Linked DNA regions of Homo sapiens: region 2 is linked to region 1. Evidence: fine-mapped expression QTL. A gene starts in region 1. The other region holds a variant in brackets. All regions are shown on one strand. Distances are from middle to middle. Region 1 holds the start of PFKM (phosphofructokinase, muscle). Region 2 holds the start of LOC124902927 (a long non-coding RNA gene).

What was found. PIP is the estimated chance that this variant, and not a neighbour inherited with it, causes the effect. A credible set is the group of variants that fine-mapping cannot tell apart.
Region 2: its variant is the best candidate, but not a certain one, in a credible set for the expression of PFKM in whole blood (INTERVAL, PIP 0.51).

What each region holds. Positions count from the first base shown.
Region 1 is chr12:48,116,990-48,121,384 of GRCh38, reverse strand. It overlaps PFKM (phosphofructokinase, muscle), which reads right to left and starts at 2,021. Exons shown (of 23, transcript NM_000289.6): 1 at 1,979-2,021. RefSeq lists an enhancer at 2,356-2,425.
Region 2 is chr12:48,021,385-48,025,779 of GRCh38, reverse strand. The region is part of intron 2 of LOC105369750 (a long non-coding RNA gene); the gene reads right to left. It overlaps LOC124902927 (a long non-coding RNA gene), which reads left to right and starts at 3,605. Exons shown (of 2, transcript XR_007063293.1): 1 at 3,605-3,815. RefSeq lists an enhancer at 3,271-4,262. The variant G/A (reference allele first, on the strand shown) is at 2,028.

The sequences.
Region 1 (4,395 bases):
TGTTGGGTTGGCATTCGAAGCTTCTACAATTTAGCCCTTGCATATAGCTTCAACTGTTGGTCCTATAGATTCTCTGCTCCATTGTCACCTGAACATTACTTTGCTCTTCCCACTTTAGTGCCTGGGCACACTGCATCCCTTGTCCAGGTGGCTACCCTGGCCCTTTCCACAGATTCACATCCCATTCCATCATTTAAGACCAGTGATAGTTGTACCCTTATTAAACCTTCACTGATTACCACAGGTCAAGGAAACCTTCTTTTGGACTTCCTCTAACCACATGTTGTCTAAACTGGATCACTGCCTCCCAGGTTCAAGTGATTCTCCTGCCTCAGCCTCCCGAGTAGCTGGGATTACAGACATGCACCACCACACCCGGCTAATTTTTGTATTTTTAATTGAGACGGGTTTTCACCATGTCGGTCAAGCTGGTCTTGAACTCCTGACTTCAGGTGATCCGCCCACCTTGCCTCCCAAAGTGCTGGGATAACAGGCATAAACCACCATGCTCGGCCTGCTTTATGTGGCATTTTAATAGTTTCGTACGCACTGATAAGAGGGTTGGACTAGATCAGGGGTCAGCATACAACAGCCTGTAGGCCAAATCCAGCCCTTCTCACATTTTTGTATGGCAGTAAGCTGTGAAAGGTTTTTATATTTTTTAGTGGTTGCAAAAAGTACTTCATGACATGTGAAAAATGTTAAGTTCAAATTTCAGTATGTGCACTACCTTCGTTCATTCACGTATTATCATGGATGTTTTTGTGCTACAACAGCAGAATGGATATTGTGACAGAGACTCATAAGCCTGCAGTTTAAAATATTTACTATCTGGTCTTTTACAGACGAAGTTTGCCAACCACTGGACTGGATGGCTGCTAAAGTCATTTTTCCTAACTAGACTGAGAACTCCTCCAGGGCAGGGATCATGATCATTTTTAAAAACTCTCCCACAGCTCACTAAAGACTTGCAAAGTCTATGCACATTACAGGACCCCAATAAATACTTGTTGAAAACGTTAATGAACTGATGAACTACATGAAATACAAATATATGAAAAATGTAAAATCGGCTTAGATACAGATATACCTCCATATTCTACTTTAAAACACACTTTTAACTTGGACTTGAGAAATCATATAGTGACAAACAGTGAAAGGAACATAGAGACACGCGTGACTAGAGACGCTCTTATTTAACTGGAATGTTCATGTCCAAATTTCTGCTGTTTTCCAAAAAGAAAGATTAAGTGACTAGGGCAAATAGGAAGGCAAAAAGGTGGAAAGGAAAAAACAAGACATCTGGGTATGCTGATCCCTTTCCTCCCGTTTTTTCTTCTCATTCACTCTTGGAGCTCATGACGGGGGCAGAATCCCACACAGAGCTCTTCCACCCCTGGAAGCGTCAGTGAGGGAGAAAATTCGCCATAACAAGAGGAGTTTAAGAGTGCTGACCTGTAAAAACCGCTCATATTCTTCTCCTGAAATCTCTAAGACAGTTATAGAGGCACAGGACACAGAAATTCATGCAGACTCATGTATAAGCATCCCTTACAGACCCACAATGACACGCACGTAGACAAAAACAGACAGATATTAAAACATATCTCTAAAATCACGTGCGTATATAAGCACGCGGCAGGGAGGAACAGAAAAGCAGCATCATAGGAGCACTGATTTGAATTGGGTGAGTGCCAGGGTAGGGTCAGGCAGCCAAGGGCAACCCGTCCGAGCCCCACCCACCCATCCCAGATTCCTGGGGAATGCAGCTGAGCCTGCAAGCGGAGGGGACTGGCCAAGGGGCTAGGATCCTTCACGACTGCCCTGCCCATCCCCCTCTCGGCTCCAGCTTAGGATGCCGTATCTCTTCTTTTCCTTTCTGCTCCTTTCAGTTCTCCCTACCGCCTGCTCCCGGCCCATACCTTCCCACCTCACTCCCAGCTCTCCCCCTTGCTCTTCACTCAATGGCCCCTCTTGCCTTTTAGTCTTAGCTCTCCTCCGCCGCTGCTTTCTTGCAGATTGTCCTTGGGAAAGGGGGGAGGGGTGATGGACGAACATGGGGAGGAGCCAGGTGGAGGCAAAGAGGGAGGGGGAAGGAGGAGAGGCTTCCCAACCTCCACTAACAGATGCTGACAAGAAGGCTCCGCCTCCTCCTGCTTGCCTTTCTCCTCCTCTTCCTCCTCCCCCTAAGTACTCAGCTCAGATATGGCAGCGGCTTAGTTCCTTCACTCCCCAGAGTCCTGGGGTCCTCATATCTATCTCGAGAGCCATCAGCATCTTTATTTAATGGGAATAATAAATTATTTCGTTGCTTCTCTTGTTTTCAACACAGAACTTTTTCCTAGTCCAGACTGCCTGAGACACCTTGCATTCCAACATCTTCAGCAACTGCTAATAAAACCTGCCCCTGTGGCCCTCTATCCGTCTTTAAGCAAACATTTCTTGGGAGTCTGTGTGCTAGATTTTGCATTAGGTGCCGAGAGGTTTAAAAAAAATAAATATAGTCCCTGCCTTTGAGGAACATTGAATTATGACATCTTCTATAGAATAGCCTCAAAAACTTCTTTTACATTTACATTACCTTTCTCAGAGAAAGTACAGAAAAGCTAGCTATTTGGAATGAAAGTGTCAAGAGGGAAGGGCGTGTCTGTGAGGCCACTTCTCAAGCCTGCAGTGGGGAGGGATGGGGGCGGGATTCTGGCAGTGAAGCAAACATATAAATTGGGCTTCACAGCAAACAGGATCCACTCTGGAAAAAGGGTCAGATGCTCCCAGAGCAAGAGGTGCATCCATTACTCAAGTCTCACCTTCCCTTTGCTTCATTGTCTCCACAGTCGGGTCTCCTCTTGCTTTTACCACTGCCCTCTTCCTCTTGCTTACTTGTATCTCTACCTCTGCACATTCTGGCACAAACAATACAAATGCAAGTGACTAGGAGATAAAACCCCATTTGACTACACAAAATAAAAGCATTTGTTCTCCAAATTATACCATCAAGAAAGTGGAAAGACAACCCACAGAATGGGAGAAAATATTTGCAAATCATGTATCTGATAAGGGGCTGGCATCCAGAATAAATAAAGAACTCATTTGCAACTCATTAAGAATGTAAACCAAAAATAAAATTATAAGCCCCTCAACCATCTGAATAGACCCCTCCTCTCAGTCAAGGGTATTCCAAAGTTAATCTGAAAAACTAGTTCAGACGTTGATGGAAAGGGGAAGCCAGACACACTTCATTATATGCTCCTCCCTTTTGGAATTACTGATAGAACAGACTCTTTAAGTCTGATAAGAAACATTTACAATCTATTCTCTGAAACCTGCTACCTGGAAGCTTTGTCCACCTGATAAAACCTTGGTCCTCACAGATTGCTTTTCTATTAAGTCTTTGGACAATAACTTAACTCTTTTCACCAATTTCCAATCAGAAAATCTTTGAATCTACCTATGACCTGGAAGCCCCGCTCCCCCCTCCCTGCTTCCAGTTATCCCGCCTTTCTGGACTAAATGAATGTACATCTTACATATATTCATTGATACCTTATATCTCCCTAAAATTTATAAAACCAACTTGTGGCCCGACCATCTTGAACACATGTTCTCAGGATCTCCTGAGGGCTGTGTCATGGGGGAGCTATTGGTCACTCGTATTTGGCTCAGGATAAATCTCTTCAAATGTTTTACAGTTTGACTCTTTTCAGTGACAATAAAAAGAAAATACCTCAATTTAAAAATGGGCAAAAGAGTTGACCAAAGAAGATATACAGGTGGCAAATAAACATGAAAAGATGTCAACATCATATGTCATTAGCGAACTGCAAATTAAAACAGTGAGACACCACTACACACCTATTAGAATGATTAAATGATTAAAATTCAAAAATCCAAATGCTAATGAGAATGTGGAACCACTGGAACTCTCATTAATTGCTGGTGGGAATGCACAATGGTACAGTCACTGTAGAAGACAGTTTGACAGTTTTTTACAAAGCTAAATATTGTCTTACCACATGATCCAGCAATAGCACTCCTAAGTATTTAGCTGAATGAGCTGAAAATTATGTCTGCACAAAAAACCTGCACATGAATGTTTATAAAAGCTTTATTCATAATTGCCAAAAGCTGGAGGCAACCAAGATGTCCCTCAAAAGGTGAATAAACAAACTGTGATACAGCTATACAATGGAATATTTTCCATCAATAAAAAATTATCAAGCCAGGAAAAGACATAGTGAAACGGGCCAGTGTGAAAAGGCTGCATACTGTATGATTCCAACTGTATGACAGTCTGGAAAAGGTAAAACTACGGAGACAATAAAAATATCAGTTGTTACTGGGGCTTGGGATAGAGAAGGAGAGATTAATAGGTGGAGCACAGGGGATTTTAGGGGC
Region 2 (4,395 bases), 96 kb after region 1:
CAAGTTCTACCTAAAATCACCCAGGGACCTTTGCACTTAGGAAACATTGTCTTGTGGCCTATCCCTTGCTCTCCAGTTGAAGTGACCTCATTCAAAGATTTCACATTTGGAAAAGGCAAATCAGAAAATCACTCAGACCCAAGGGAGGGAAGGAGGCCAGGCTTGGGCTGGGGGCGGGGGCTGGGAGGCACCCTGGTGGGCTTGAGACCCAGGGGCTGGGGGCAGGCAAGTGAGCTGCCTAGGGCCGTGAATGAGGCCTTGTTGAGAGCCGTGGCAGCTCGGCAGTGTGCAGAGACCATGCTGCAAATGTAAAGTTTCCAATAACTTTTATGGGTGGTTTCTTAATAAACATCTGAGCAGCCTGTCTGGACCGAGAGCTGTGTTGTCCCAGGCGCCCAGAGATGGAGCTGGGTGAGGGGCTGCTGTCTGCAGTGTCAGCCTCTGCACCCCACCCACAGCCTCCCACGGCATCCCCTCCCCATCTCCCCTTTGTCTTCCTCTGTCTTCCTTTTTACTTCCTTTTCGCTGTTTAATGAGAACGACTTCCATTTGCTATTTGTTGACTGAGTCCGGCACTGCATTAAGCTCTGTCTACATTTTGTCTTAGTGCTTGCAGGCACTTTATAAGGTAGACGCAAGTATTGTGCCACTTTTACACATCAGGGAACGTATGAACACATCAGGTTGCTCAGCAATGAAGTGGAAGAGCATTGATAGCCCTTTGGGCACAGATCTGTGTGCCTCCAAAACCCATGCTCTGAGCGCTGGTAACCTCTACTCCTCCTCTTCCTCACCTTGTCAGCATCAGCACTCCACCTTCCCTTTCCTCCTCCGCTTCGAATCTCAGAGCCAACTTCAGCTAGTGCCTCTCCCTTCGGAAACACCTCCGGGAAATACCTCCTCCCAGATCACCCCTGCCAGAACCAGCAACGACTATGAGTACAGCACGTGGGTCTGCAGGTTAGTTGACTTGTCTGTGATGGGACTGATTAATCGAATGCTGAGACACTTTTGTAGCCATTTGAAAGCCATTTGGGTTATTGGCCCTGGCTTCAGATAAACAAGATAAATAAACCTCAGCAAGAAGGAAATGGCTTCTGGGGTCTTTCTCAGAATTTGGTACATCAAAGTGAAGTCCTAGATGGAAGGGTACACTTCCCACAAGCACCTTCCAGTGGGGTCCCTTGCTTTGTTTAGTTGACTTATCACTAAACATATGGGCTATAAGATTGATAATATGTTTTGTAAAAAGGGTAGATGCTCAATGGCCTCGTTGGGCCTATCCAAAGATAGAATGCTATGGGAAAGGAAAACACCTTAAGAAGAAAAGTTCTTGGGTGAGGCGCGGTGGCTCACGCCTGTAATCCCAGCACTTTGGGAGGCTAAGGTGGGTGGATCACTTGAGACCAGGAGTTCGAGACCAGCCTGGCCAACACGGCGAAACTAAAAATACAAAATTTGCCAGGTCTGGCGGGGGGTGCCTATAATCCCAGCTACTCAGGAGGCTGAGGCAAGAGAATCGCTTGAACCTGGGAAGCAGAGGTTACAGTGAGCCGAGATCATGCCACTGCACTCCAGCCTGGATGACACGGCAAGACTCTGTCTCAAAAAAAAAAGAAGAAGAAGAAAGGTTCTCAGATGTCAGGAGACAGAAACAGTGACCTTGAAGTGTAAACACTGAACCCTTAGCTCACAACAAATCAGTTAGAATGTATTAGCTGCATTAGAACTGTCCACACTGACTTCAACCCTGTATTTCTTGGGTCTGGAGCCTTTTGTAGGGCTCCGTGTGTGTACATATTCTGCAAACTCCTAACCTGGAAGCAGTCATTTGGTGGCTATAAGCTGTGAGCAAGAAATGCTCCAATTATCTGTGCATTAAGATTAATCAGAACTCTGGTCACCGATGCATATATGTGTGATGCTGAAGCACTGCCTTCCAGCCTCTCTGTGGTTGTGTTTGTCTGATAATTATAAGATCCGTGAGGACAGAGGCCACAGATCAGGGATGTCCTTCTTCCGAGATG[G/A]AGACAAGGGCAGAGCAGGTGGCAAACTGTGGCCTTGTGTTCCAGGGGGGCGTGTCCACACTTCACACTCTGATTGTGCTGGCTTGCAGTGTGGCTGGGCCTCTCGGGTTGCAGCACCCTCATTTGTTCTACCCTAACACAATCAAGAAAGATAAAAAAGAACACTGTAGCCAGGGAATCTCAGCTGCTGTGCCAGTCACCGGCCATTCATTGTGTGGGGCTGAAGATCTAGCTGGGAGTCAGGTCTAAGAACTGGTTCAGCTCCTCCCCTTGCCTCATCTGTGAAGGCTACTCAGAGGAAAGAAACATGCACCTAGGCTCTCGAAGCCTTCACTGAAGGACAGAGAGTGCTTGTTACAGGCAGTTCCTTCAGGGTTGAAATTCCATTTCAGGTCTCAGCACCTAAAGTCATTTTTCTTTCTTATTTATGTTTCCTGTGGAAAGTCTGAAGAAAAACTGGTGGAGCATCTTTTGAGTTTGCATTTGGAAGGGAGAAAATATGCTCCTTCTCTGCTGGGCAAACATTGCAAACATTGGTGCTTTCACAAACCAAACACAAGCTGGTTTTCAAAGCCTCCGGCTTGGCGACCCAGGGAACTGGGGGGAGGGGAGGAGAAGGATGCAGCCACCTGGGCTGGGGAGGTTTGCTTTGGGAGCAGAGGTTGGAATTTGTGAATTTTCTACTCCAAGAAGATCCAAATAGTGCAGCTCCAGCCCCATCCTGCGCAAGCTTGCTCAGGCAATAGGGGCTCTACCTGGCTGGGGTCTCGATGGAGAGCCAGGGCCTTGGATGATCACCTCCCCGCCCCAATGCAGCCTGGAGTGAAGTGGAGAGGGGAGGGGTGAAGAGGTGTAGGAGAGACGGTGCAGATGAACCAAGATGGCCTCAGGGATTCTGGTCCCTCTCTCTGGGTGATGCTGAGGATAGAGAGCGGGGGTGAGAGTGAGAAGAACATGCCTCTGCACCCACAAATTTGCCAGGCTTTCAAACACTGACCAGGCAATCCACTGGGCAGTTGTTCCTATAAAGCTAGGACTATGAGAATAGCAGATGTATACTATGGTCTGTCTGGTTCTTTCAGCGTAGTCTGTAGCAAAAGGTTTCCTCACTCCCTCCTTTTCTTCTTCCTTCCTTCCACTTCTTTCTTGACAGAATAATATAATAAATTTCCAAGCACTCATCACTAGCTTTAATAAGTATCAACTAATGGCCAATCTTGTTTAATCCATAACTGCACCTACTTCACCCACTCTTTGTCCTCCAACTGAAATGTTTTGAAACAAAATCTAGACATCATATCCTTTTATCCATAGATACCTAGATTTAAAAAAAATTTTTGATATTGAACTCTGATGATACAGGGAATCTCCTTCCCGGTATCTTAGGGAAAAAATGCCCTTCATAAGTCTACATATAAATTTTGCAAATCATTGTAGGGGTTCAGGGAACCTCCGAAGCTCATCTAAAGACCTTAAATTTAAACCCTTGGTATATAGGGTAATCGCTAGCTCCCATAGAACACATTGTTTTTGGTAGCCTGGAGCTATTAGCTGTTCCTTTGAAGGAGATTTACTTTCTTGTTTTATTTGCAATAGGTATGCACTGAGTGCATTGTGACCATGCTGGGTTATTGTGGGTAAAGGTGAGAGAAGGCAGGGCACGCAGGGCAGATGATTACATTCCTGCCGGGAGGGCTGGAGAGCCCTTGGAAAGCAGCCTGCAGGCTGAGGAAGGAGGGACTCCGGGATCTGCCCTCAGGGGCTGCAGGAAGGAGGAACCTTTTCTGAGTAAGCTTTCCTGGGGGTTTGTTTATTGGCCAGCGTTAGGTCTCTGAGTGGTTGTTAATGTGTTTGTTTAGGGTCCATTGTGATGTCTTTAAGATAAAGACCTGCTCAGTTTACAGGCAACTGTCAAGTACTGGGCTTGGAGCCCAGGGAGCCAGTGAGGGAAGCATTTCCAATATGGCGATCAAAGCCACACTTAGGGCCTTCCTAGGCTCCTGAAATAATCTTGGAAGGCACTCTGGGAGAGGATCAGCAGCATGCACAGGGTTAGACTAGAGGGGCTCTTTCAGGCTGGACAAATAGCTGTTGAATAAGGAAACAGACTTCTTTGTTCTCTTTTTTTTTTTTTTTTTTTTTTTGTTTTGAGAGGAGGTATAGGAGCAAAGCCATTTTAGATGCTAGGGGTTCTTTGGAGAGAGCCCAGAAGCTTTCTGATCTTAATATCCAACTCTTTTGCTATTTCCCCTACCTCCTCATCCCACCTCAGGGTCAGCAAATCTCCATGTCTGCAGACCCAGGGACCTGTAGTTAAGCTGCATGGAGCCTAAAAAAAGGCACTGTGGTGCTGGTGCTTGGATACACA